Linked DNA regions of Homo sapiens: region 1 is linked to region 2. The links come from fine-mapping of genetic effects on gene expression. A gene starts in region 2. The other region holds a variant in brackets. All regions are shown on one strand. Distances are between the middles of the regions.

Evidence for each region.
Region 1: its variant is fine-mapped to the expression of PRC1 in lung (TOPMed, PIP 0.98).

The regions. Positions count from the first base shown.
Region 1 is chr15:90,959,654-90,976,057 of GRCh38, forward strand. RCCD1 (RCC1 domain containing 1) reads left to right here. Exons shown (of 8, transcript NM_001017919.2): 5 at 247-345; 6 at 675-845; 7 at 1,372-1,401; 8 at 1,965-3,472. The coding sequence ends at 2,116. It overlaps PRC1 (protein regulator of cytokinesis 1), which reads right to left. Exons shown (of 15, transcript NM_003981.4): 10 at 14,932-15,078; 11 at 14,483-14,593; 12 at 10,751-10,861; 13 at 9,794-9,970; 14 at 9,426-9,467; 15 at 6,387-7,549. The coding sequence ends at 7,478. PRC1-AS1 (PRC1 antisense RNA 1) reads left to right here and starts at 6,716. Exons shown (of 4, transcript NR_051984.1): 1 at 6,716-7,025. The variant A/T (reference allele first, on the strand shown) is at 6,975.
Region 2 is chr15:90,986,099-90,999,333 of GRCh38, forward strand. It overlaps PRC1 (protein regulator of cytokinesis 1), which reads right to left and starts at 8,437. Exons shown (of 15, transcript NM_003981.4): 1 at 8,309-8,437. The coding sequence starts at 8,319. LOC124903556 (a long non-coding RNA gene) reads left to right here and starts at 8,681. Exons shown (of 2, transcript XR_007064759.1): 1 at 8,681-8,837; 2 at 11,245-11,527. VPS33B (VPS33B late endosome and lysosome associated) reads right to left here. Exons shown (of 23, transcript NM_018668.5): 23 at 12,575-12,956. The coding sequence ends at 12,877. PRC1-AS1 (PRC1 antisense RNA 1) reads left to right here. Exons shown (of 4, transcript NR_051984.1): 4 at 1,532-2,526. RefSeq lists enhancers at 7,743-8,610, 8,611-9,477 and a silencer at 7,974-8,193.

The DNA.
Region 1 (16,404 bases), 25 kb before region 2:
TATTTGGCAGCATAAGAATGGAAGTAGAAGGTCCAGTAAGGGACTTAAAGGGTGATCTGAAGGCATTGAGGGGATGTGAACCTAAGACAAGCCCCTGGGGCCCGAGGGGAAGCGCCTTGGCCTGGAGTGCTACCTTGGGCAGGGCAGGCTTTAGTTGTCCCCAGGAGCGGATGCGATGGGGAGGAGAGTTTGGATGGATGCAGGGGCTTCACAGTCTGTTTCATGTGTCCCCTTGATCTCTTTCAGAGACTGGGGATATTTATATCTGGGGCTGGAATGAATCAGGGCAGCTGGCCCTGCCCACCAGGAACCTGGCAGAGGATGGAGAGACTGTCGCAAGGGAAGGTGAGGGTCATCTCGGCTCCCACAGCCGTCTCCCCAGGATGTGGCTGTCATTCCTAACTCCTGGCTGTATGCTGGCCTCAGAGCTACACTGCTCAGATGGAGCATGTGAGCCCCTTATGGGAGGGAGCATTGGCAAGGCTGATGCCGGTCTTGGCACAACACACTTGTGCAGCAGTGCCAGCCCTGCCTGCAGAATGTAGGGGTTGGGAGCACCAGCTTTGGAGCTAGGCAGTCGTGTACCTCAGAGCTGTTGTGGCAATAAGTGACTGCATGAATAAGATTTAGCTCAGGGCTCAGTTGGTGTTCACATCATTATTATCATTCTGAAGCCACAGAACTGAATGAAGATGGTTCTCAGGTGAAGAGAACGGGTGGGGCTGAGGATGGAGCCCCTGCCCCCTTCATAGCTGTCCAGCCCTTCCCGGCATTACTGGATCTCCCCATGGGCTCAGATGCAGTCAAGGCCAGCTGTGGATCCCGGCACACAGCTGTGGTGACACGTGAGTGGGGCTGGGAGGCACTCTGCTCCACTCGAGCTGGTGCCTACGGAAGGGGGTGTGGTCGACGGAAAAACTTCTGTCTTAAGGCTTCTGTGGCTCATACAGAGCAGCTACCTTGCTCAGTGGATAAGCCCCAACCCCCTTGTTGTTTCACAGTAGTTCCCCAGCCTGTCAGGCCCAGAAGTTTCTTCCTTCTGGTGGGAGGCTGATGCTTTCTGTCCTCCCTGCACGGCCACAGACACATTCCCTGCCCGCCGCCGCCTCTGACAGCAGGGACTGTCCAGTCTGGCATGGAAGACTGCGGCGCTCGGTAGCATGGCACACAGGAAGATCCGCCACTTTTTCCCTCGGGATCCTCTGCCATGCCACGTGTGATCAGCCAGTTGTTAAGAGAATATGTTGTTCCATGCCAGGCAGATCTCATGAGGATTGTAATATGCTAGCTGTGGGCTGTGCCAAGCTGGGCTGGACAGATGCCTTGCCAAAGAACCGTAGTGACAACTATCGATTGTCCTTTTGCTTTCAGGAACAGGGGAGCTCTACACCTGGGGCTGGGGTAAGTAAAAGGATTGTTTTTGTGACCCTGAAACCAAGGAGAAGAAAGACCTGGGAGTACAGGGCAGGTGACAAAGCCAACAAGACTGGAGGAAGCAGGGGCCTCGGCCAGGTCACTGGGAGGAACAGGACTGCTCCCTCCCTGGGGTTGGAACAGACATAGGCGCGCTCAGTCCGAGGCCAGACAGGGGAGACATGGAGAGGATATCGGTACCACCCGCCTACCTCTCTGAAAGACTGTCTTAAGGGAGTATCCAACCAGCACTTACAAAGCAGCTTTTTGTGGATGTGACACTGGGTGGAGAAAAAGATTCGATGGAAGTGTGTGCTCTGAACATCTTAGCTTGGATAGCAGGGAAGTCTGGAGGAGCGTCTTGCCTGGAGTGGCTGGTCGCCACTAGCCTCTTGGGGATCCCCAAGGTTGCCTGGCTCTGGGTCTCTTGGATTCACAGAGCAGTGGGGCATAATCCCAGCACTTCATTTGATAGTCTGGGCCCCTTCCTGGAGGGAAAGCAGCAGCAAGACCCAGTGGAGACGATGGCAAAGGGGCTGATTTCACTTTAGGTAAATATGGACAGCTGGGCCACGAGGACACCACCAGCTTGGATCGGCCTCGCCGTGTGGAATACTTTGTAGATAAGCAACTCCAAGTAAAGGCTGTCACCTGTGGGCCGTGGAACACCTACGTGTATGCTGTGGAGAAAGGGAAGAGCTGACATGTGTACGTATATGTATATGCAACACCTGTGAGACCCCCATTCAGGTCAAGGAAAACCATTGCCTGCACCCCAAGGGCCCCATATTTGCCCCTCCCCATCACAGTCCTGCCCTTCACCCTCAAGCACGGTCCTAAACTTGTCTGCACTTTAGAAACACCTGGAGAGCATTGAAAACTCTGCTGCCTAAGGTCAGCATCAATCAAAACAATGAAATCAATGAAACAATGAAACCAGAGCTTCTAGGTGTGTGGCCTGGATAGTGGTAGATTCAAAGCTCCACCCACCTCATCCCAGGTACATTTGATGTGCAGCTGAGATTGGGGCACATTCCAGGTCATCGTCTTCTGTCAGTCATTTCCCTGCTTTCGTTTGAATTTTACCATTCTTGTATGCAGCCTTATACGACATAGTTGTGTTTGCTTTTGAGTGTTAGATAAATGGAATCCTGTGTATGTGCTTTTGTGTCGTTTTTGTCACTCAGCATTGTATAATCCATCCTTGTTGGGTCCTGGAGTTCATTTTTAATGCTATATGGTGTTCTGTTGTATGAATAATACCTCAAGTGATACAGCCTTGTTGATGGTCATTTTTATTGTTTCTGATTTTGGTCATTCCACATAATTCTTTGTGCAGTCTTCTGCACATGTGCACAAGTTCCTTTGCAGAACATTGAGTTGAATTGCTAAGTCAGGAGATACCTTTAATTTTACTAGATAACTGTTGCCCCCAGCAGGGTGGGGTCTACTGTGGCTAAAATGTCAGGTAGATGCACACTGGTTTTAATTGGCATTTCCCTGGATACTGATGAGGTTGAGTAGCTTTTCATTTGTTTTGGATGGCTGGGCATGGTGGCTCACACCTGTAGTCCCAGCACTTTGGGAGGCTAAGCAGGGAGATTGCTTGAGGCGAAGAGTTCATATGTTTATTGGCCACTTGGAGTTTTTCTGTTGTCAAGTGCCTGTTCAAGTTTTCTGGCCTTTTAAAATGTTCTGTATTTTCCTTAGTGATTTTTCTTTTGGATATTTCAGATACAAGTCTTTTGAGAGTTAGTATTCAGAGTATCTTCTGCTACAATGTAGTTTGTTTCAGTCTCTCTTGGTATTACCAATTTTAATACTTAGGTGATGCTTACTCCATGCCAGGTAAGGCTCAAAGTGCTTTACAAGTATCAACTTATTTTGATAAAATAAGCTTATCAGTAGTTTTCTTTATAGTTAAATTCTATTTGTGCATGTGTGTGTCTGTGGTTTAGCAAATGTTTCCCACCCATGGGGTCTTTTTTATTGTGGTAAAATATACTGAACATAAAATTTATGTTCAATAAAAAACAAAAATTGTTTTTAACCATTTTAAGTACATAGTTCAGTGACATTATATGCATTCACTGTTGTGCAACCGTCACCCCTATGCATTTCCAGAACTTTTTCATCATTCTATGCTGAAACTCTGTGCATTAAACACTTAACTCGTCAGTCTCCCCTTCCCCAGCCCCAGGCAACCACAGTCCTAACCTTCTGTTCCTATGATACTGTAAGTGCCTCATGTAAGTGAAATCCCATAGTATTTGTCTTTTTATGACTGGCTTATCTCACTTAGCAGCATGTCCTCCAAGTTCATCCATGATGTAGCTTATGTATCTAGACTTCCTGCCTTTTAAAGGCTAAGATTCTGTTGTATGTATACACTGCGTTTTATTCATCCGTGCATTGGTGGATATCTGAGTTGTTCACTACAGTCAATAATGTTGCTGGGAACATGGGTGTACAACTCTCTTGAGTCTCTGCTTTCAGTTCTTTTGGATATATACCCAGAGTGGAATTGCTGGATTGTGTGGTAATTCTAAATTTTTTTGAGGAACTGCCCTGTTTCCCACAGAGGCTGCATCATTTTACATCCCCACTGGAAGTGCACACAAATCCTAATTTCTCCACATCCGCGTCCACACTTGTTTTCTATTTCTGGTTAACAGCCATCCTAATGGGTGTGAAGTGGTATTTCATTGTGGGTTTTTTTTTTTTTTTTTGGACAGGGTCTCTCTGTTGTCCAGGCTGGAGTACAGCCTCCACCTTCTGGGCTTAAGCCATCCTCCCGGGTAGCTGGGGCTACAGGCACGTGCCACCACATCTGGCTAGTTTTTTGTATTTTTAGTAGAGATGGGGTTGTTGCATATTGCCCAGGCTGGTCTCAAACTGCTGGGCTGAAGCGATCCACTTGCCTTAGCCTCCCAAAGTACTAGGATTATAGGCATGAGCCATCATGCCTGGCCAAGCCATTTTTTAAAATGGACAAAAGTCAACAAAGACGACAGAAGGATAGCAAGTGAGCATATGAGAAGATGCTCTACATCATTAGTCATTAGGGAGTTGTAAATGAAAACCATAGTGAGACACCACTCCATACACAGAATAACTAGAATTACATAAAGGCTGAACATACCAACTGTTGGTGAAGATGTGGAGAAACTGGAACCTTCATACATTACTGGTAGGAATGTAAAATGGTACAACTGCTTTGGAAAACAGTTTGGCATTTCTTCTTTTTTAAGATGGAGTCTTGCTCTGTTGCCCAGGCTAGAGTGCAGTGGTGCAATCTCAGCTCACTGCCACTTCCGCCTCCTGAGTTCAAGGAATTCTCCTTCCTCAGCCTCCTGAATAGCTGAGATTACAGGTGTGTGCCACCACAGCCAGCTAATTTTTGTATTTTTAGTAGAGATGGGGTTTCACCATGTTGGCCAGGCTGGTCTCGAACTCCTGACCTCGTGATCTGCCCACCTTAGCCTCCCAAAGTGCTGGGATTACAGGCGTGAGCCACCATGCCCGGCCCAGTTTGGCATTTCTTAAAAAGTTAAGTGTACACATACCATAGATGTGATCCAGCCATTTCACTCCTAGGTATTTATCCAGAAAAAAAAATATATCCATACAAAGACTTGTACATGAATGTTTATAACAGCCTTGTTTTTAATAGCCAAAAACTGGAGAAAAGCCAAATGTGAAAAATAAACCTAACAGGCGAATAAACTGGTATATCAACACCATGGAATACTAAGCAAAAAAAAAAAAAAAAAAAAAAAAAAAAAAAAAAAAGAATTATGGATATAAGCAACAATATGGGTAAATCTGAAAGTAGTGAAAGAACCAGACCAAAAAAATATATACTGTATGATTCTACTTACATCGAACTGTAGAAAACGCAAACTAATCTGTAGTAACAAATCGGTGGGCCAGGTACAGTGGCTCATGCCTGTAGTCCTAGCACTTTGGGAGGCCGAGGTGGGCGGATCATGAGGTCAGGAGATCGAGACCATCCTAGCTAATACAGTGAAACCCTGTCTGTCTGTACCAAAAATACAAAAATTTACCAGGCGTGATGGCACGTGCCTGCAGTCCCAGCTACGCGGGAGGCTGAGGCAGGAGAATCCCTTGAACCTGGGAGGCAGAGATTGCAGTGAGCTGAGATTGTGCCACTGCACTCCAGCCTGGCAAGAGCGAGACTCCATCTCAAAAAAAAAAAAAAAAAAAAAAAAAAAAATCAGTGGTTGCTCGGCAGGGTGAGGCTGGGAAGGAGGAGTGAGAAAGGGGTGGGAAGAACTGCTGGGGTAGAGAGACTTGGTTAACTGGACTGTGGCGATGGTTTTTCTCTTACGCTTCACATGTGTGCAGTTTATGTCCATCCTCCTTCAGTAACGCTGTTGAAGTTGGGCAGCCTCCCCATATTGAGACAAACGGCATTGAAGCCAGAAGCATCCTAGGACTCCCTTTGCTCTCTACACATCAGGGGTTAGGTTTTATATTTCTCACCAAAAAATTAGAGTAAGAGATATTCTTAATTTAGAAATGTACCAGAGAATATTTTAAAAATCACACTCGGCCGGGTGCTGTGGCTCATGCCTGTCATCCCAGCACTTTGGGAGGCAGGCAGATCATCTGAGGTCAGGAGTTCAAGACCAGCCTGGCCAACATGGTGAAAGCCTGTCTCTACTAAAAATACAAAAATTAGCCAGGTGTGATGGTGCGTGCCTGTAATCCCAGCAAATCGGGAGGCTGAGGCAGGAGAATCGCTTGAACCTGGGAGGTGGAAGTTGCACTGAACCAAGATAGTGCCACTGTACTCCAGCCTGGGCGACAGAGTGAGACTCAAAAAAAAAAATCACACTCCTGACTAAAAATTTCCAGGAGGTCCTTTTAGTTTTTTGTGTTTGTTTTTCACACACAGACCAACCAACTAAAAAGTGACTGGGGAAAAAAAGGAAACACCACACTATATCTTTTTGAAATGTAAGTATACAGATTTTAATTTATTTTTAAGAATAATTGTATATTTTAAAAACAGGACACGTACTGTATGAGTAAACAGCGTGGCTAACACCAAGTCCACACTGGTAAGCTTTTGAGAACCATTTACACTATGTTGACAGTAGTACTGCTGCAGGCAGACAGCGGAAGAATAAATAATAGTGCTTCAAGAAGAGTAGTGATTGAGAGGATAGGTAAAGAGGGCGCCTCATCGTGGAAGCTAGAGCAGGAACACCTCCCCAGTAGTGACATGTGCAAAGTTCCAGATCTCCACGACAAAGACAGCTCAACCCATTGGAACAAACAGACTCCCAATGTGGCTGGCAACTGCGGGGGTAGAAGAACTCAGGCAAAGTAGGCACAGGAATGGGGGAGATGAGAGCCAAGGGACAAACGCCGAGAAAGCGTTCCGACAAGCATGTGTGTTCATACATGCATACCCCCAACAAAGGGCAATGCACTGTGTAACAGAACTGAACACAATTTAACAAAGCTGCTCCCAGCCTTCCTGTCACCTCTTTGGCAGTAGGGCAGGCCATCTCAACTTCGGACACACAAAG[A/T]CATTCTCTTCAGGAGGAAGGCTGTCCTGTGTGGTGGGGACAAGGCTTCAGGTAAGAGCAAAGCTATGATAGCTACAGCATTAATTGAACATGCCTAAACAAAAAAGATGTTAATTACTAGTTACAGGTATACATGCCAAAATTACCCCCAGGGATGGGCATAGTCAATCATTTTCCTACAGTGGTGAAATAAAACAAGCTTTGATCATGCTTCAGCAAGTAGAATTATGTGGTAGAGAAGTCAGGCCCCATATGCTAAAATTTGCACTTCTTGCCATAAACTTTTCATGTATATAAGTCAAAACCAAGTCTCCTAGGACCACTAAACCTATGATGGGCTTTCAACTGTAACACTCATTCACATCTTTAAGTTAGGCCCATGGTCATGGAACCTGGCCAAGGTTTCAAGCACGCCTAAGCTGAAGAAAAACTAAAGTCACCCCCATATAATTAGGTCCAGTCTAGGCACAGGAAGCCACAGCTGGTTGACTGATCAGGGCTTCTCAGGACTGGATGTTGGTTGAATTGAGGATTCCAGAAGTAGCATCAGATTTGGAAGCCTTTGAAAGTTCTCGCTGTTGAAAAATAAATAACATCAGTGGCCATACTGCCTCTCTTACACATGGCCCACCCTTCTAAGTTTGGTTAAGTGTCAGCAAAAGGTCCCTTGAAGGTAGTTTCTCTGAGATCCCTAGCCTGCAATAGGCTGCGTTAGGAGTAAAAGGTGAGGAACTCTGAGCACCATTCTATTAGTCACAGACAGAGTGCATGTGCACGCATGCCCGTGACCCCTTTTTCCTCAGCCAGTCCATTCTGTTACACCTCACAGAAGAGAAATCCTTCATACAGTCATGCACTGCATAATGATGTTTCAGTTAACGACAGGCCACATACACTATGGTGGTCCCATAAGATTATACCATATTTTTACTGTACCTTTTCTATGTTTAGATACACAAATACTTACCATTGCGTTACAATTGCCTACAGTATCCCAGGAATAGCCTGAATCAAAAAAACCCACAATTGCCTACAGTATTCTTTCTGTAACATGCTGCCCAGGTTTGTAGCCTAGGAGGAAAACGCCATACCATATAGTTTAGGTGTGTAGGCTGTTCTGTCTAGGACTGTTAAGTACACTCTGATATGTGCACAATGAAATTGCCCCACATTCTCAGAACATATCCCTGTCATTAAGCGAGGCATGACTCTACTTCACAGAGCTACTTTAGAGTTGTCAAGGTAAGTAGGCAACAAGCTTTGGTCTCTTGAGCCCTTTATAAAACAATGGGCCAGAACATATATCTACCAATCCCTGGGGCTGAGGCCTTGTAACCTGCTGGTGATTTGATCTCATGCTGGAGCACATGGTAGAGCAGCAAAAGATAAAGCATGAATGGCTATTGAGAAAGACAGATATTAGCAGAGGTTAGTTTACCGGCTTTGGTGCTGCCTGGTGGAGTCTATCAGCCATAGCAACCCAAACCAGACGAACCTACCTAGGACTAGCCACACAGATAGGCAGGTACATTTAAGCCTCAGATAAAATGGGCCTTGGTTGAACAAGCGAAAAAGAGAAAGCTGGACCTCTGTCCAGCAATCAGCCAGAGTGACACACACCCACTTTTAAAGGTAGAAGCACCACCAGCCACGTAATTTGAAAAACATGCTGGAGTAGGAAGCCAGTTTCAGTGATCAAAACTAGCTGCAGCCTTGGCCAACTGTTCCATTCTCTATCCCTGCAGCAATTAAGAGGGGAGGCAGGCTAGGGGTTTAACTCAATATCCCCTCAAGGGTGAGGAACATCCTCTCCTCTTGCTAGTAAAATATTGAGAGAAGAAATCACAGATTAAGTAAAAGGCAGTGTAGTTAGGTGTTAGCAAATATAGAGTAGGATACTAGGAAGTGAAGAGCATTCTGGAAAAACTTGCTTCCAGTGCTTCATCTATGCTTCAGTAGCTCAATGTATGGAAAGAGGCAAAGGTGAGGAAATCAGCATTAGCTAGCTGAGAATAGAGCTGGCGGTTAAGCCCTGAGGGGTTAGGAAGGCATATACTCCAGGAAATAATCAGCACACAGGCCAAGAGCCTCATTGTAGGCAGCACACAGCTGGGGCTCCCTTCCCCATGTGATTGGGGGCCTCTATTCTTTCCAGCTATTGCAGGCCTTTGATGTCACAATTGGGGAGGGTCAAGGTTTTCTGTTAAACGTGATTTAAAACTGTGCCTGACTTTAGGGGCTGAGAATCCAATTCAAGTCTGAACAAATTTTATTAATTAATCTGTTGTGAATGTAAATCAGATGTGTTTTTTTGAGTCCATGATAGGAATTCCTGCTTCCTTTGTAACACTGCTGAGATTATTAGTTAGTGTAGCCCTGTGCCCAGATGAATGAAGCCAGCAGATGACAGATCAGTTTGGAAAAGGGACATGCAGGGATTGCCATACAGACCTGAAGCCCAACAGTGGAACTGTCAGAGAGGGACGGATCCTTCTAAGAACAAAGAATTAAGACAATTACCAAGAACTCCACCAAGAGAGCACCAGGACAGTGATAGAGGGGTTGCCTCCTGCAGCCAGGGAATGGTATGTATTAAGCAGAAGGATCCAGGTTAAATGTCTAGTTGCTGCTGCCAACTTCCTTCCTACACAACCCCCCCTTAAATCACACCCACCCTGCCATGGTCAAAGCAGGAAAGGGATTCTCAGCCTCCAAGGTAGCTGCCCTAGCTAATAGCCTGGGTGCCCCTGGGAAGATACCCACTCTGCCCCAACTGTGTGCTCCCCAGAGACTGGTAGATATTAGAAAAGGTGAATTACCGCAAACTCAGAATAGGTGCTGGCAACAGAATTAATGCTGAAGTTGCGCTGGAGGGGGGCCGAGCCAGGGTACCCACCACTCAGGATGCTGCCGTTGAGCTCCAGGTTCTCCTTGTTGGCTCCATGCCTGCCAGTACGGGGTGTTTTCTTCCCTGAACAGGTGGAAGCAGCGACTGGCTGCAGAGAAAGGAAAGAGATCCATGTATCATCCTTCTAATGAACGTGCACACGCACACACAATACCTGCACTGGTCAAAGGCTGAGACTATCTTTATATTCATGTCTATAATCCTATACTTTTTAGTTAAAAAAAAAACATATATATATATATATATATATATATATATATATATATGGGGCTGGGTGTGGCTCATGCCTATAATCCCAACACTTTGGGAGGCCAAGGCAGGAGGATTGCTTGAGGCGACATGTTCGAGACCAGCCTGGGCAACATAGCAAAACACTGTCTCTAGAAAAAAATTTTTTTTAAATATGAATTCTTGATTTACAGAACACCTATCTTGAGCATAGTCTAATAAAATATTTGAAAGACTGAATGTGTTTTGCCACATACTTTCCACATCTCTACTGAGTACCTGGCATGTCTAGTGATCTGGTTTCACTGGGCTAGAACCCACATGTAGGGGACCTATCTCCATACCAGCTGAGGACTGGGCTTGGAATTGAGTCTACAGCGACCCTGCCTGATCTTCAGTTTCCCAGACACATCCCAGTGCTTCCCATGGTACCAGTGGGGCTCAGAGTGACTGTTCTCTTTTTTTGCACGTTAGTTTTGGACCATTATTTAATGGTGAGCTAGCTTATATCTGTCAACTCTCAGCATCTCAATAAGAACCAAATCCAGGGATCTTAGAATCTAGAACAAGTAGGTGGGGCCTCTGGGTGAACAGGCTAGGGACGCATGTGAGGATGTGCTTAGACACAGGGCATACTAACCTTGCTGCCAGAAGGAGGAAGTCGAGACACGGGGGAGTGGTAGACTGTCCCTCCAAAGATAGGCCGAATGCTACTATTGGCCGTAGCATTGGACATGGTGGTAGTGTTCAGCTAGGGAGAAGAGCACGTGGGTAACTGATGTGCAGTAACATCCTCAGCATTTCTAGCAACCTGTCTACCCTACAGAGAAATGACTATGGGAGGAGGCAGTCTAGGGAAGACGGGTTTACATGGTGAAGGGCCTGCTGTGTCTAATACTGCATAGATTTGAAGTAACTTGTGAAAAATTTTCAAAGCCTATTGCTATCCAGCAAATGGAAGTGTACAATGGTACAACCACTGTGGCACAAGACATCTAGCATATGACCCAGCCATTCCACTCTTAGATGTTTCTACCCAAACGAAATGAAAGCATAGATCCATACAAAGACTTAGACGTAAATGTTCACAACAGCTCCCTGCAGCAGCCAAAAGCTGGCAACAGCCAAATACCCATCAGCAGGTAAGTGGACAAGCAAACTGTGGTAAATTCATACAGTGGAATGAATATTGATCTACAATAAAAAGGAGTGACCTTTTGATACATACAGCAACAGAGATGAATCTACACTAAATGAAAGAAGCCAGACAAAAAAGAATATGTACTGCGGGATTCTATGTAAAATGTTTCAAAATGAAAACTAATCTATAGTTAGTTAAAGACTAAATCCCTACTCGCCACAGCTAGAGGCTGGGGGCAAACTAGGAGCCAGGGAAGGAGGGAGGTAATACAAAGAGGCACTAGGAAACTTTGGGGACCATGAAATGTTCATTATCTAAATTATGGTGACAGTTTCATTGTATAAACCTACATATGTCAAAACTTATTATATGCTAATGATAAGAGCTGTAAATGTTTTTGAGATGGGGTCTCACTCTGTCACCCAGGCTGGAGTACAGTGGTACAATCTTGGTTCACTGCAGCCTCGACCTCCTGGGCTCAAGCAATCCTCCCACCCCAGCCTCCTGAGTAGCTGGGACCACAGGCGTGTGCCACCACAACCAGCTAATTTTTGTATTTGTAGTAGAGATGGGGCTTCAACATGTTTCCTAGTCTCCCAACTCCTGAGTTCAAGCAATCCCCCTACCTTGGCTTCCCGAAGTAGTGGGATTACAGGCTTGAGCCACTGTACCCAGCCAACACTTTTTTTTTTTTTTTTTAATTAAAAAAATTCTAGGGGGCCGGGCACGGTGGCTCATCTGAGGTCGGGAGTATGAGACCAGCCTGACCAACATGGAGAAACCCCGTCTCTACTAAAAATACAAAATTAGGTGTGGTAGCACATGCCTGTAATCCCAGCTACTCGGGAGGTGGAGGTTCACGCCTGTAATCCCAGCACTTTGGGAGGCTGGGGCGGGCAGATCTTCTGAGGTCAAGAGATTGAGACCATCCTGGCCAACAAAGTGAAACCCCATCTCTACTAAAAATACAAAAATTAGGTGGGCATAGTGGCGCGGGCCTGTAGTCCCAGCTACTCAGGAGGCTGAGGCACGAGAATCACTTGAACCCAGGAGGTGTAGGTTGCAGTGAGCTGAGATTGCGCCACTGCACTCCAGCCTGGGCAACAGAGCGAGACTCCGTCTCAAAAAAACAAAACCAAAAAAAACACATTTTAGGCCAGGCACAGTGGCTCATGCCTGTAATCCCAGCACTTTGGGAGGCTGAGGCAGGAGGATCACTTGAGCTCAGGAGTTTGAGACCAGCCTGGACAACTTAGTGAGACCTCATCTCTACTGAAACTCAAAAAAAAAAAAAAAAAAACACCACCAACAAAAAAAAAAACCCCAAAATTAGCCGGGTATGGTGGCATGTGCCCGTAAGTCTCAGCTACATGGGAGGCTGAGGTTAGAGAATCACTTGAGCCCAGGAGGCTGAGCTGCAGTGAGCCATGATGGCGCCACTGCACTCCGGTGTGGGTGATAGAGCAAGACACTGTCTAAAAATAATAAATTTAATGTTATAAAATAGCAGTAGAGAGAAGAAATAATACTCTTTTATTTATCAAAAAGAAAAAAGTAGGCCAGGCACAGTGGCTCACGCCTGTAATCCCAGCACTTTGGAAGTCAAGGTGGGTGGATCACCTGAGGTCAGGAATTCAAGACCCTAGCCAACATGGAGAAACCCTGTCTCTACTAAAAATACAATATTAGCCGGGTGTGGTGGCACATGCCTGTAATCCCAGCTACTTGGGAGGCTGAGGCAGGAGAATTGCTTGAAACCAGGAGGCAGAGGCTGTAGTGAGCTGAGATCACCCATTGCACTCCAGCCTAGGCAACAAGAGCGAAACTCCATCTCAAAAAAAAAAAAAGTCCTCTCTGACTGTGCTGTAGAGATGAAGAATTATTACATCTTCCATTTAGTAAGCGTGAACGTTGTTTTTCACATGGTACCACAAGGCCATCTCTTGGTCTTACAGGGAAAATGGCATTACAGGTTTTCAGGAAAACTGCTGAAGCTTTCTTTTCATCGTTACCAGAATGTTGGCAATCATTCCCCCACCGCACCCCGAATTTAATGCAAGGACGCAACAAGCACAGACACCAAAGCTGGCCACTCCGTGACTGTCACTATAGGCCGCTACTCAGCCTTCCATCCACTCAAGTGGACTCGACATGCAGGGACAGAAAAACCCTTTCCCATCTCTGCAGGACAGAGGGCAAGAGGTAGGGAAAAGAAAGATCAGAGTGTTACTGTGTCTATGTAGAAAAGGAAGACATAAACTCCATTTTGATCTGTACTAAGAAAAATTGTTTTGCCTTGAGATGCTGTTAATCTGCAACTTTAGCCCCAACCCTGTGCTCACAGAAACATGTGCTGTATGGAATCAAGGTTCAAGGGATCTAGGGCTGTGCAGCATGTGCCTTGTTAACAATATGTTTACAGGCAGTATGCTCGGTAAAAGTCATCTGCATTCTCCATTCTCGATTAACCAGGGGCACGATGCACTGCGGAAAGCCGCAGGGACCTCTGCCCAAGAAAGCCTGGGTATTGTCCAGGTATTTCCCCGCACTGAGACAGCCTGAGATATGGCCTCGTGGGAAGGGAAAGACCTGACCATCCCCCAGCCCGACACCCGTCGTCTGTGCTCAGGAGGATTCGTAAAAGAGGAAGGCCTCCGTCTCCTGCATGCCCCTGGGAACGGAATATCTCGGTGTAAAACCCGATCGTACGTACCTATGTTCGTTCTATTCTTAGATAGGAGAAAACTGCCCTGTGGCTGGAGGCGAGATACGCTGGCGGCAATGCTGCTCTGTTACTCTTTACTACACTGAGATGTTTGGGTGGGGAGAAGCATAAATCTGGCCTACGTGCACATCTAGGCACAGTACCTTCCCTTGAACTTATTTGTGACACAGATTCCTTTGCTCACGTTTTCCTGCTGACCTTCTCCCCACTATCACCCTGTCCTCCTGCCGCATTCCCCTTGCCAAGATAGTGAAAATAGTAATCAATAAATACTGAGGGAACTCAAGAGACCGGTGCTGGTGCAGGTCCTCTGTATGCTGAGTGCTGGTCCCCTGGGCCCACTGTTCTTTCTCTATACTTTGTGTCTTATTTCTTTTCTCTGTCTCTTGTCCCACCTGATGAGAAATACCCACAGGTGTGGAGGGGCTGGCCCCCTTCAAAGAGGTGGCTGGGACTACCCTCACCCACTCCCTTGAAATCAGTGTTTCCCTAAGCCTTGTGTTTACCTTACGTGCTTTGCCCGGTGTATTGGGAGCCAGTCCTCGCCGCTTGCTAGGTGTTCGAGGAGCGCTGCCATACAGCATCTCTGTCTCTGTCTGTTTTTTGTTCTTCAGTTGCTGTGTGAAAGTCAGAAGCAACAGTGATAAATCTCAGGAAGAGAGCGGGTCTGGGATGGCAACAGCAGCAGGGCCGGGAATCTAGGCCCGTGTCTCTACAGCCAGAGCTAAAGAGCTGCCGCGGGCTCCCCGTTCCACAAGCCCCGGTCCCCGGCTCCCCGTTCCACAAGCCCCGGTCCCCGGCTCCCCGTTCCACAAGCCCCGGTCCCCGGCTTCCCGTTCCACAAGCCCCGGTCCCCGGCTCCCTGTTCCACAAACCCTGGTCCCCGGCAGAGACTATGGGCTGCTCAGATTACTTTCTTCGTCTTTTCCCAATTTGCGTTCACGTTCACACTTACTCTTTCCTGCTTGGCTCTCTCTTTCTCCAATCGATGCATCTCCCATTGTTCTGCCACATACTCCATGAATTTCTGCCCATTCACCATAAATGCCTTTGAATGTTCCTGTTCCCACAATTCAATTCGTGCCTTCAACTCTTCTTCCAGCTGAGACCAGAAACAAGGACATGTTAATTACTTCAACTCTTTAGTGCAAAGCCCAAATGAAATGATTTCCCTAGAGAGTGACTCCTCCTCCCCAGAGCATCATTAGCCTCATTTCAGGTAGCTGGGCCCACATGGGTACAGGTCAGAGTGACCAGAAATCAAAGCCCGGAGACATTTCATTCACACAACACACAAGAGTGGAAAATGGCAAGAACCCAAAGTTTGACCACTAAGGTTTTGGTGCCTGAAGTTGGAGGCAGCACAGGGAAGATCAGCAATATGAAATAGGCGGTGAACATTAGGAGCAGGACTCTGAAATCAGACTTAATGGGGTTCAATCTGGAATCACCCTCTTTACTGGCTGTGAAGCAGTGAGCAAATTTACATTTTTTTTGAGACAGTCTCACTCTGTCGCCCAGGCTAGAGTGCAGTGGCACGATCTCAGCTCACTGCAACCTCCACCTCCCGGGTTCAAGCGATTCTTGTGCCTCAGCCTCCCGAGTAGCTGGGATTACAGGCATACGCCACACCTGGTTAATTTTTGTATTTTTTAGTAGAGATGGGGTTTCGTCATGTTGGCCAGGCTGGTCTCGAACTGCCTCGGCCTCCCAAAGCCCTGGGATTACAGGAGTGAGACACCACGCCCGGCCAGATTTACCTAATTTCTTAGTACCTCAGTTTCCTCGTCTGTAAAAATGGAAAGAATACCGACCTCATAAGGATGTTGTAAGGATTAGACGAATCACTAAATGAGAGCGTTTTGAAATGATATCCCTGACTTAACTCAAAAAATGGTATTATTATTATCAAAGTGGAAAATGGTAATGGAGCCCACAGGACTCTCTCTCAAAAGCTTTCCTCATGTAACTGACTGAATTGTGTTTCCCCCAAATTCAAATGTTGAAGCCTTAACCCCCAGTACCTCAGAATGTGACTGTATTTGGAGACAGCGTCTTTAAAAAGAGAATTAAGGCCAGGTATGGTGGCTCATTCCTGTAACCCTAGCATTCCTGAGACCGAGATGGGAGGAATGCTTGAGGCCAGGAGTCCAAGACCAGCCTGGTCAACACAGCGAGACCCCATCTCTTGCGGGGGGAAAAAAGAAAGAATTAAGTTAAAATGAGGTCATTAGGTGGGCCCTAATCTCATACGACTGGGAGTGTTTAGGCCACACATATTGTGGGAAAACCATGTGAACACACGGAGAAGACGACAACCATTTACAAAGCCAAGGAGAAAGGCCTCAGAAGAAACCAACTCTGCCAACGACATGTTGATCTCAGATTTACAGCTTCTAGAGTTGTGAGAAAATAAGTTGCTGTTGTC
Region 2 (13,235 bases):
GGTGTAAATTGGTACAACTATTTTAAAAACTGTTGGCAGTCTATCTACTAAAGCTGAACCCAGCAGTTCTACCTCTACATACATACCTAGCAGAAATGAACACATACGTTCACCAAAGACATATATGAGAATGGTTAGAGAAGCACTACTCATAATAGCAGGGAAACAGAAACAGCCTAGATGTCTATCAACAGAATGAATAGTACATTCCTACAATGCACTAATGCAGCAATGAAAATGAACAAACTGGCTGGGTGCAGTGGCTCACACCTGTAATTCCAGGACTCTGGGAGGCCGAGGGGAGCAGATCACTTGAGGTCAGGAGACCAGCCTGGCCAACATGGGGAAACCCTGTCTCTACTAAAAACACAAAAAATTAGCTGGGTGTGGTGGTGCGCCTGTAATCCCAGCTACTGGGGCGGCTGAGGCAGGAGAATCGCTTGAACCCGGGAGGCAGGGTTTGCAGTGAGCCAAGGTTGCAGTGAGCCAAGATTGTACCACTGTACTCCAGCTTGGGCGACAGAGCGAAACTGTCAAAAAAGAAAATGAACACACTACACATGATATGGATAAAGCTCAAATTATTATATTTCTATTTTATTTATTTATTTATTTTACTTTTTTGGGGTGATGAAATAGTTCTAGATCTTGATGGCGATTATACAACAGTATACAATTGAAACTACCTGTAAAGCGAGTCTGTTTTACTGTGTATGAATTATACCTCAAATCTTTTCATTTTTTTAATGAAGTAAAATAAACAACTAAAAAATAGTTGTAAGGGGAAGAGGAAGGAAAAAAAAAACACTTTAGGCTGAGCAAATGCCACTAGATATGCAAATGTGTATCACTATGTGATTCCGTTGACAGAGAGTTCAAAAACAGGCAAAACTGGCCAGGCACGGTAGTTCACGCCTGTATTCCTAGCACCTTGCAAGGCCGAGGCAGGAAAACTGTTTGAGCCCAGGAGTTTCAGATCATTCTGGGCAACATAGTGAGACTCTGCGTCTTAAAAAAAAAAAAAAAAAAAAAATTAGCCGGGCACGGTGACGTATGCCTATAGTCCCAGCTACTCAGGAGGCTGAGGTGGGAGGATTGCTTGAGCCTGAGAGGATGAGGCTGCAGTGAGCTATGATCACTGCACTCCAAAGCAACACCCTATCTCAAAAACGAAAACAAAAAAAGCAAAAACAAAACCAGGCCAAACTAATCAATGCTTTCAGAAGTCAGGATAGTAGTTCTTTTGGCTCAGGGGAGGCAGTGACTGGTAGAGGGCTTCTGGGTTGCTGCTTACACAGGTGCATCAACTGTGAACAATTCACTGAGTTTACACTTGATTTCTGTACGTTTCTGAATGTATGTTATTCTTCAATTACCAAAAGCTTATTTTAACAAAAAATTATTTATCTAAAATACAAATTTAACTGGCTTCTGTATCTTATCTTTTAAGAACAGCTTACTTTAAAAATTATCACAATTAGTCTGCTTTACAGAACATTTAAAGAATAGAAATTTTTCTCCCTTTTCTTAGGTATAACAGGACAACTAAGACTGCCCTGGCACCAGAGAAACTACAATCTAGATGTGCTCTGCTTCCAGTCGGCCGAGAAGCCTGCAGCAAATCACCTAAACACTTAAGGTCTTTGTGTGCCATCCACACCCAACTGCAACTAGAGACTTTCATTAGCCCCTTTCTGTCTCAGAGCTTTCGGTGGTTCTACAAGTCACCAGCCTGGATCTCTAACAATGTGTCTCTCCAAAGCTGTTAATACATTCACATCCAAAATATCTCCAGCCACGAAATCCTAGTTTAGAGGTTGCCCGTCCTTGTTGAAGAAACATTTCTACACAAATACCTGTTGCCTATACCAGATGGCCATACCAATACCCAAATACTGACAAACGTTTAAAAGAATTTACGGTACTCCCTTCACTTTAGAAATGTTAACAGTTCAAGTCCAACAGAACTTAAAGGAAAAAAAGAGAAATGTTAACAGTAAGTAAGGCATTTATTTAACATAATCTCAACTAAAGTCCAACTAAAGAGCTTCCCCAGGCAAACACTCCTTTTGCACTTCATTTTGAAGACAAAAGAATGCACAAGTTAAAATCCTAATATTACCATTTTATTAAAAATAACTTTTAAGATCCAATCTGTGGCCAATATTCGATCTGGATGCAAAACCCTGGCTTCCAGACAGGCCAGCCAGGGGCACTGCTCTGAAGGTCATTACTTAAGTATCCCAGTCTCCTCAGTCTGACAGACCTACCCCTGCCCAGCCAATCTCCACATAACAGCTAGTTGTTCATAATAAATCCCATCAGATCCCCGCTTAACTACTCCCCTTCAAAGGCTCCACTGCCCTCAGGAAATAGTTCAACCACCTTCTGTAGAAAGGCCTTCTAAAACCTCTCTCCGAGTCTGTCTGCTAATCTCTCCCACTTGACACTCCCCAGGTCTCTGGCCAGCTGAACTTCCCGGGCATTTCCTGAACAATGCCCCTCAATAAACCACATGCAACTCTCATTTTCTGATGCCACCGCGCTTTGTACATTCAGTTCCGTCTATATGCCACCACCTCCTCTGGAGAGCTGTGGACTTGTCACTCACCATTCCCCCCAAGCCCCCTAGTAGACCATAAACTCAAGGGCAAGGACCACCACATCTTATTCATCTTCATTTTACCACACCCTAACTCACAGTAGTTGTTCAATAGATATAAAATGAATGGCCCTGAATTCCTCCCAAAGGGTCCTATGCTCCTAACCTACCTAACCTAATAGAGGTATTATGCACTCTGGATCCTGACGAAGGTTTACAAGCAGGGCTGCCTATCTCTGTAACACATCTAGAAGGTAAAGTGATCGTTTTTCTGAGTAAAAAAATCTAGCACAATGGGCAAAGAATCTGAATAGACATTTCTCCAAAGAAGATATAAAAATGGCCAATAAGCACATGAAAAGATGCTCAATATTAGTCATTAGGGAAATGCAAATCAAAACCACTTCATAGCCAACAGGATGGTATAATAAAAAAAAATATATAGCAAAAAGTATTGGTGAGAATCTAGAGGAACTAGAACCCTCAGACACTGCTTGTGGGCATGCAAGACGGTACAGCCTCTTTGGAAAATAGTCTGGTAGTTCCTCAATTGATTTTTTGTTTTTTGAGACAGGGCCTCACTGTCACCTGGGCTGGAGTGCAGTGGTGTGATCATAGCTCAACGCAGCCTCAACGCCCTGGGCTCAAGCAATTCTCCTACCTTAGTCTCCCAAGTAGCTGGGACCATAGACGTGCCATCGTGCTTGGCTAATTTTTTTTTTTTTTTTTTTTTTTAAGGTTTGCCATGTTGCTCAGGCTGGTCTTGAACTCCTGGGCCCAAGCAATCCTCCCACCTCGGCCTCCCAAAGTGTTGGGATAACAGACATGAGCCACTGCACCCGGCCCCTCAGTTTAACAGAGTTCATACAACTCAGCAATTTTATTACTGGGTATTTGCCCAAAAGAAATGAAAACACATTTATACAAAAACTACACAACTGTTTATAGCAGCATTACTTATAATAGCCAAAAAGTGAAAAAAAAAATACAAATGGCCATCAACTTATGAATGGGTAAATAAAATGTAGTATATAGGCATACAATGGAATATTATTTGGCAATAAACCTTGAAAACATTATGTTAAGTCAAAGAAGCAAGTCACAAAAGACCAGAGCTACGGTTCCGTTTTTATGAAATATCCAGAATAGGTAAAAAGTAGATTTGGGGTTTGTATGGTTTTTTGAGACAGGGTCTCCCTCTTTCACCTAGGCTGGAGTGCAGTAACATGATCATGGCTCACTGCAGCCCCAACTTCCTAGGCTCAGGTGATCCTCCCACCTGAGCCTCCGGAGTAGCTGGGACTACAGATGTGAGCCACCACACCCAGCTAACTTAAACAATAAAATTTTTTTTTAGGCCGGGTGCGGTGGATCACTCCTGTAATCCCAGCACTTTGGGTGCCAAGACCGGCGGATCACGAGGTCAGGAGTTTGAGACCAGCCTGGCCAATATGGTGAAACCCCGTCTCTACTAAAAATACAAAAATTAGCTGGGTGTGGTGGTGGGCACCTGTAATCTCAGCTACTCGGGAGGCTGAGGCAGGAGAATTGCTTGAATCCGGGAGGTGGAGGTTGCAGTGACCTGAGATCACGTCACTGCACTCCAGCCTGGGTGACAGAGTGAGACTCCATCTCAAAAAATAAAATAAAATAAAATAAAAAATAAAATAAATAAATAAATAAATAAATAATTTTTTTTTTTTTTTTAAGAGGTAGAGTCTCTCTATGTTGCCCAAGCTGTTCTTGAACTCCTGGGCTCAAGTAGTCCTCCCACCTTGGGCTCCCAAAGTGCTGGAATTATAGGTGTGCGCCACCTTGCCTAGCCGAAAAGTAGATTTGTAGTTGCGGCTGGGGAGAATTTGGACCATGGGGTGAAAGGGGATTGACTGCTAATGGGATTTTAAAGGGGTGATAAAAATGTTCTAAAATTGATTGCAGTGATGATTGCACAACTCTGAATATTCTAAAAATCACTGAATTATAATATACAATTTAAGTACATTGTATGGTATGTGGATTATACCTCAAAGCTGTTATTAAAAACATCTTGGCACATAATCTAAAACATTTTTGGTTTCTTTTTTTTTTCTTTTTTTGAGACAGAGTCTCAGTCTGGCACCCAGGCCGGAGTGCAATGGTGTGATCTCAGCTCACTGCAACCTCTGCCTTCTGGGATCAAGCGATTCTCCTGCCTCAGCCTCCTGAGTAGCTGGGACTACAGGCACACGGCACCACGCCCGGCTAATTTTTGTATTTTTAGTAGAGACGGGGTTTCACCATGTTGGTCAGGCTGGTCTCAAACTCCTGACCTCGTGATCCGACCGCCTCGGCCTCCCAAAGTGCTGGGATTACAGGCGTGAGCCACTGTGCCCGGCCCATAATCTGAAATGTTTTTGATTTGTGACTTAATTGAAAAACTTACAGATTTTTACTATGGCCGGGCGCGGTGGCTCGTGTGCAATCCCAGCACTTTGGGAGGCCAAGGCGGGCGGATCACCTGAGATCAGGAGCTCGAGACCAGCCTGGCCAACATGGTGAAACCCCATCTCTACTAGAAATACAAAAATTAGCTGGGCGTGGTAGTGGGTGCCTGTAATCCCAGATACTCAGGAGGCTGAGGCAGGAGAATCACTTGAACCCGGTGAACCCAGGAGGCGGAGGTTGCAGTGAGCTGAGATCATGCCATTGCACTCCAGCCTGGGCAACAGAGCAAGACTGTCTCCAAAAAAAAAAAGAAATAAAAATTTTACTAATATATAACGTATTTTATTTGGCCTGTTGGAAATGGGTGTTTGGAATTACCAAACACCCATTATTATTATTCTAGTTAGAGACACTTCCTGTAAGAGGATCATTTTCAAATTAAAAACTAACATTTCTCACTCTTCCTAACATTCAAATTGTACTGAACTTAATTTTTTTTTTAAACTTAAATCTTGTATCATCCTTGACACTTCTTTCTTATATGCCCGCCATTAGCATTATCTACACAAGACAGGCAGAATCTCACTCCTCCTGACCTCTGCTGCTACCACTACCACCCCCACCCTGGTCCAGGTCACCACCACCAACTTCTTGCTGTATGGCAGGGGCCTCTTAACTGGTCTCCCGGCTTCGAAGCTGGCCTCCTTAAGTCCATTGTCAACACAGGAGCCCCAAGTCCTAATCTTCTACTCAGAACCCTCCAACGACTTGCCATCTCACTCTAAGGAAAAGCCTCTGACTTTCCAAAGACCTATGGAGCCCCATTCCATCTGAAAGCCATTTCTTTTGACCTCAGTGCTCATTCTATTCCTGTCACAGCGACCTCCTTGCTCTTTCTGGAACATACCAGGCGCTATCTCCCCTTAGGGCACTTGGATTTGCTGATTCCTCTACCTAGATCTCTTTTCCCCCATGCTGCATGGCTTCACCCTTTTCCTTCTTAGGTCTTTGCTCAGAGATCACCTTCTCAGGGAGGCCTTTCCTGACCCATCTCTTTAAAACCACAACCCCCCTTCCTACACCTTCAGTACTTCTTAACCTCTTGATTTCTCTACATAGCACTTACCACCATTTAAGACTAACTTATTTATTACACTCCTCTTTTGCTATTAGAATATAAACTCTGTGAGGGCAGGGATGTCACTTTTGCTCACTGCTATATCCCCAACACTTGCAATGGTTCCTTGTATATAACAAACATTCAAGAAGTATTTTTCTTTTCTTTTTTAGTATAAATTATTATTTTTTAAATAGAGACAGGGTCTTGCTATGTTGCCCAGGCTGGTCTTGAACTCCTGGGCTCAAGTCATCCTCCCACCTTGGCCTCCCAAAGTGCTGGGATTACAGGTGTGAGCCACTGTGCCAGGCCCAAGAAGTCTTTTTGAATGAATAACGTGACATTTCAAAAAAGTTGTATGATCTTAAGATGCTTCAGAGCAATCATTATGAACAATTATCATGATACACTTAAATACTCCCTGGCTAAATTGTTTCAGATAATCCCCTAAAAGCAGCAAGTCTGAGTTTTTTTTTTAGATTCACTGAAAAAAATCAAGAGTGCATACAAAGACTACCACTCAAGGACAAAAAGGTTGTAAAATGAGTCAGTTTTTCCAGTCTTGAACATAAATCACTGGACTGGAAGGTATCTCACAGTGGTCCTTAAATTATTTTCTACCTTCAGGCAGCCTTCACTGATCCACTGCCCTATTTTTTCTTAGCATTCCAGAGAAGGAGCTTTGTTGATCTCCAGTTCAACCTGTTTCGGGGATCGATAACCATAATTAATTCTGGCCAGAGTTTCGTTTGAGCCTCAGAGGTCAAAGCTGCAGTGAGCAATCTCGCCACTACACTCCAGCCTGGGCGACAGAGTGAGACCCCGTCTCAAAAAAAAAAAAAAAAAAAAAAAAAAAAAAGTTAATTATATCCATTAGCCTGGAACCAACATTAAAGGGTAAGTTTTCTCCTGCTTCATTCAATCCCTTGATAGAGGAGATGCCTACATAATTCATAAACTGTTAATGGACTTTTTTTTTTTTTTTTGAGACGTAGTCTCACTCTGTCGCCTAGGCTGGAGTGCAGTGTCGAGATGTCGGCTCATGCAACCTCTGCCTCCTAGGCTGAAGCGATTCTCCTGCCTCAGCCTCCTGAAAAGCTGGGGGTACAGGCGCGCCACCAGGGCCAGATAATTTTTGTATTTTTAGTTAAGACAAGGTTTTACCATGTTGGCACTCAATTCTCATTATTCTGAGGGCAAGCATTTTAAAAAGACTGATCAGAATTAGTGATCATGAAATGAAGAATCTTACAAAGCCTTAGAACAATCAGTTCCACCAAAAACTACACATTATTTAACGCTGTATCATCAGAAAACTGCATCCACAACTTTTAGAAAATAAAGTTAATATTTGGAAGTCACAAGGTTGGTAAGTGGCAGTGTCACCGTCTGGTCCCGATTTCAAGTCGGACAGTCCCTCCCCAACACCGCCTAGGAAGTTATTAAAACGACCGGAAAAGAATTCCATAATCCGTTTCTTAACTTGCAAAGAAACAAAGCTATCTTTCCAATTCAAACAAAACGTTAACACCGCTGGCCAGATATAAAGAAAAACAACGGGCCGGGCACGGTGGCTCACGCCTGTAATCCCAACACTTTGGGAGGCCGAGGTGGCAGGATTACTTGAAGCCAGGAGTTCGAGACCAGCCTGGCCAACATAGACCGCGTTTCCACAAAAATAAAAAAAAAGAATAAAACAAAGAAAAACAACGATAAATAAACTTAACAGCTTTAAAGAAAAGCCACGACCACAGAAGGTTTACAACGAGTCATCTGCGCCAAGCAGCGGCACCTGAGACGCTGCGGGCGGGGAGGGTGGGGTCCGAGCGCCAGCGCTGACCGCCTGGGTGGAGGCCGCCCCGGGCCCCGGGCCTCGACTACCCTGCCGCGTCCGGGCACCGGCGCTCGGCTCCCACCCGGGCGTCTGAGCCTGCGGGCACCTGCGGCCGCCGGCGGACAGCGCGTCAGGTCTCACCGCCGCGGCCCTCGCACTGGCTCGCCGCCTCCAGACCCTGCCCCTCAGCGCCCCCGGCCTCCCTCGGCGCCGACTGCCGTGACGATCTAGGCCCGGGACCCCGCACGGGTCCCGCACCCCTGAACAGGCCCCGCAGCCGAAACGAGCGTCGCTCCCTCCCGCGTCCCCTCGATTTCCCCGCAACCCGCACCTTCTCCTCATGGCGGACGCTCCAAGCAGCCGTGAGTCCAGGTCCAGACCTACTCCACACGGCCCCGAGAGCAACAACCACCCGCAAACACCGGCGATGTCACTCCGCGTAGCCGCTCCGCGAGCCGTTGAGCCCCGCAAAATTTCAAACCGCGCCACGGGGCGAAGCCTCGTCGCGATTGGCGTCGCGTCCCGTCGCTCCAAGAAAATCCCCGCCCCTCGGGCTGAAGTCGCGGGTGCGCAATCGGGGTGGGGACTCGCGAGCAGGGCCTGGGAAGCGCCGGAGTGGCGGCGGGGGATGACGTCACTGTCTGTGAGTGGCCGGGCGTGGCCTGCGCCTCCCGCTTCCCTGGCTTGGCGGCAGCCTCAAGGGACTCCTCTCCCAAGCCAGCTACCTCATCGGAGCGCCGCCCCGCCTCGCCCCGCGCAGTTTGGATTCGAAGTGCGCGGGCGGGGAGGGAGTTGAGAGCACCGCGGCTACCTGGCTTCCCTGAGTCCCGGCTGCCGGGAACGGGCGCGGGGGTGAATAGGTAAGTTAGCGCCTAGTTTCCCTCGCTCATCCAAGAAGCGAAGCTTGGAATCGATCTTTGGTGGGACTCTTCCCCAGATGTAAGAAGCCATACACTAAAGGGGAAGGGAAGGAACATTGAGTCCTGCTCATGGGCCTGGAACGTTTCAACGCCAGTTATCCCATTTAACCTCCACAATCGCCATTGCAGAGGAAACGCAAAAAGATTTGAATGATTTGCCTAAGTCACGTTATCAAATTAGATGAGTTTCTAAATCGTTACATGAAAAATTTAAAACTCAAAATAGACATTACTTTTGTAGCCTCCTTTCCTCGATGAACATGTTACATCCCTAAATGCTTATATATCACCGTTTTTTCCCAGTGATTCATGGTGGCATGGTGGCATGAATCCTGGTGTGTAGATATCTCGCCCATTCTGCTATTGATATTTAGATGATAATTTAAAAGATAAGGCTGGGCTGAATATCTTCATACATAAATCTTTGTGTATGTATGTATTTATAAATGCATCCTGCATTTTCGTACGGCTGATTCCTAGAGGTGTAATTACTGAATGCTCCCTTTATTAATTTGCCTTCTGCACAAAGCCTCACCGGAAAAGTACCCTCCTTTTGTTACCCTCAGCAGGGCTGAATTCTATTGTACTTCTAAACATCTTTGCTCATTTTGTAGGTAAAATAATAATACTGGCATTTCCTTGTTTGGCACTTGATTATAATTGAAATTGCACATTTTTCGTGTTTATTGGCCAACTGTAACTTAAGTGAATCCTCTTCATATGCCTTTTCCCTAAAGGTAAAGGATGCTTGTTTGCTTCACCTTCAGAACCATATTTTTCTTATTTTCAGAAAAACTTCATTAGTGCTTTCAATGTTCTTTTTACTTTTTTTAATTGAGACGGAGTCTCGCTCTGTCACCCAGGCTGTAGTGCAGTGGCCCAATCTCAGCTCACTGCAACCTCCGCTACCTGGGTTCAAGCAATTCTTGTGCCTCAGCTTCCCGAGTAGCTGGGACTACAGGCACGCACCACCATGCCTGGATACTTTTTTTTTTTGTATTTTTAATAGAGACGGGGTTTTGCCATGTTGGCCAGGCTGGTCTTGAACTCCTGACCTCAGGTGATCCGCCTGCCTCGGCCTCCCAAAGTGTTGGGATTACAGGCGTGAGCCAACGCGCCCGGCTTCCATGTTCTTTTTAACTTGTCAGCAGCATGCCAAACATTCACAGCACCAACACAGTGGGCGACAGGCACCACTTTTTCAATTTCCTTGCACTCTGTGATTAACATTGACACCACTAATAGAGTAGATGGTAGCACTACTTTTAAAATTTACTTGCATTCTTTGTTGATTAAATTAACAGGAGAGCTTTTCAGAAAGCTTCACAAATTTGTGATCTTCATACTTGTTCTTAGCACCAGCATTATGAAGTATCCAAAGAAAAGGCAATTTTTTCTCTCTTGTCCTTTACACTGAGGTGCTGAGGCTAACAAAGTCATAGAACTGATGCAAAGATATCCATTCAGAGCATAAACGCAGCATGTAAAACACTGTGTAATACGCGTTTATAATATATGACCTTAGCCTGGGCACTGTGGCAAAACCCTGTCTCTATAAAAAATACAAAAATTAGCCAGGTGTGGTGGTATGAGCCTGTAGTTCCAGCTACTTGGGAGGCTGAGGTGGGAGGATCACTTGAGCCCAGGAGGTCAAGGCTGCAGTGAGGCATGGTCACGCCACTGCACTCCAGCCTAGACGACAAAGCAAGACCCTTTCTCAAAAAAAAAAAAAAAAAAAAAAAAAAATCCTATTACAGGGTCATATATTTCTACTGGATGGAAGTGCAATGTTTTGCCACTGTTTAATCTTTTTCTGATGCCACCTATTCTTTCTGTGAATTAACAGCCCTGTTGGCAGTGTCTTTGGTCTTGCACACTAGCTTGACATAACACTCAAAATTCTAGCTAGATGCTTGAGGAATGCCTTTTCCTTGGAATATATTCTTATACAGAATTATCATTATTCTTATTTATTTATTTATTTTTTGAGACAGAGTCTTGCTCTGTTGCCCAGGCTGGAGTCCAGTGGCATGATCTCGGTTCACTGCAGCCTCTGCCTCCTGGGTTCAAGCGATTCTCCCACCTCAGCCTCATGAGTAGCTGGGACTACAGGTGCGCGCCTCCACAGCTGGCTAATTTTTATATTTTAGTAGAGACAGAGTTTCACCATGCTGGCCAAGCTGGTCTCAAACTCCTGACCTCAAGTGATTTGCCTGCCTCGGCCTCCCAAAGTGCTAGGATTACAGGTGTGAGCCACCGTGCGGGGCCCAGAATGATCATTATTCTATAGGAAGAATACTTTTGATGATCCAGTAACTCAGGTTTTGATTTTCTTTCTTCCTTTTAGTAAGTGGCAGCACTGTGGAATGGGGAACAGATGGAAGAATGAGCAGCTGGGAGGCACACTCTTGCAAAAACCCAGGCAAGAGACAATAAAGACCTCTGTCGTAGGGATGGTGAGGAGAAGATGAACTAGAGACATTTAGAAATAAGAACCAATAGCACAAGGGAACCAGCTGAAGGTGGGGCATAGAAAGAAAAAATCTGAGGTCAAGAATACAATTTTTTGCTCATTTGAACAAAGTTTGGGAATACAGGAAGAAGAGCAGATTAAAGGATTCAAGTAGGGACAGGAGCTTCCACTCATGAGTTTATTTTGTACATGCTGAGTTTGAAGTGCCTGTGGAATGACCAGGTAGGAAATACTTGTGTGGCGCTAAGGAGTGAGATGAAGGCTTGAGATCTGGAAGTGGATGACAACAAAGGACAGAGAGAGGGGAGATGTCAGCAAATGGGATGAGCAGAGAGGAGTAATCAAAGAACAACCTAAGAGACTGTGGGAGGACAAAGAAAGGGTATTATGGAAGCTGAATAAGACAATTTCAAGGAAAGCATAGTCATCAGTGAGATCAAGTTGGAAGAGGCCTGAAAAGAGGCCACTAATATAGGTGGTTGTAATTCCTTCTTTTTTTTTTTTTTTTTGAGACAAGGTCACAGCTTACTGCAGCCTCGACCTCCTGGGCTCAAAGGATCCTCCCACCTCAGCCTCCCCAGTAGCTAGGAATACAGGTGTGTGCCACCACCCTCGGCTAATTTTTTTATTTTTTGTAGAGACGGGGTCTTCCCATGTTATCCAGGCTGGTCTCAAACTCCGGGGTTCAAGCGTTCCTCTTGCCTCGGCCTCCAAAAGTGCAGTGATTACAGGCATGAGCCACAGCACCTGGCCTATATTTCATCATTTTTAAAAGGTAAAGAGAGAGAGAAAGGCTACTAGCATCAGTAATGAGGAGGGTGCTGGCACATTTATAGGAGCACTGTTTGCTGATGCCTGAAATGGCTCTAATGGCACACAATCTTTCATTCTGCAATAAGAAACAAACGCTTAAAATTGAAGTGCCTCCTTAAATTAAAACAACAAAGTCATTTTCTCAAAAATGTAATGAATCACAACATTTTAGAACTGGAAACGTGCTTGCTGGTCACCTCAGCCATCTCCCTCATTTTATGGTAGAGGAAACTCAGGTACAGAGTGGTAGAGTGATTTTTACAGGGAAGAACCAGACCAGGCCTGGAGCCACTACAAAGTCCAGGCCAAGAAGCACAGGAAGCCCCTGTAGCAAGCTCCAATGGGCTTTCACTAATAAAGATGGAAGTGCGTGTCCAGAACGACCAACGTATTACATCTGAGAGCAGAGGCTTTATTTACAATGACATTCAAACAGGATTTAGCAAAGGATGCCTCTTCCTGCTCGCATCTTAGCAGCATGGGTTGTACTTCATAAACAGAAAAGAGAAATATCCTGGGAGCAGGAAGTGAACTCTTTTCTCAGATAATGTTCTCTAAATCCCAACACGTTCCATGCTCCCGGCTCTTAGCAGGTAGTTGGTGGACACTTGGTTATAGCAGCTGGGTGCCAGATGCCTGCATCTCACTGAGGAATGTGTTCAGGGAAGATGTCAACACTGGCCGGGAAAAACATCAGGCTTTCACCTCACTCATGGCCTCCATAAGGCGAGCGCTGTTTGTGACTGCTGTCGTCAGGAAAATGAACCTGTAGCCTAAGGAGTCAAATGCAGCAGCAGAAGAGACAGCACAGATCTTAGGCCCCAACGGCAACCCATAGAGCCTCTCCAGTTCCACAGTCCCCACGGGATCACAGCACCAGTTTATAGACAGAGACGTGAGTGCCATGCTCTTGGGCACCACTGCTTTCTATGACTGGTATAACTGGGCTCCCTGCTGTGGCAGCCCAGAGTTAAGGCTATGGCAAGTTGTATTCTGAGGCCAGGAGAAAAATATTCCTGTGCAGGACACTTTGCGTGTTTTTTTTTTTTCTC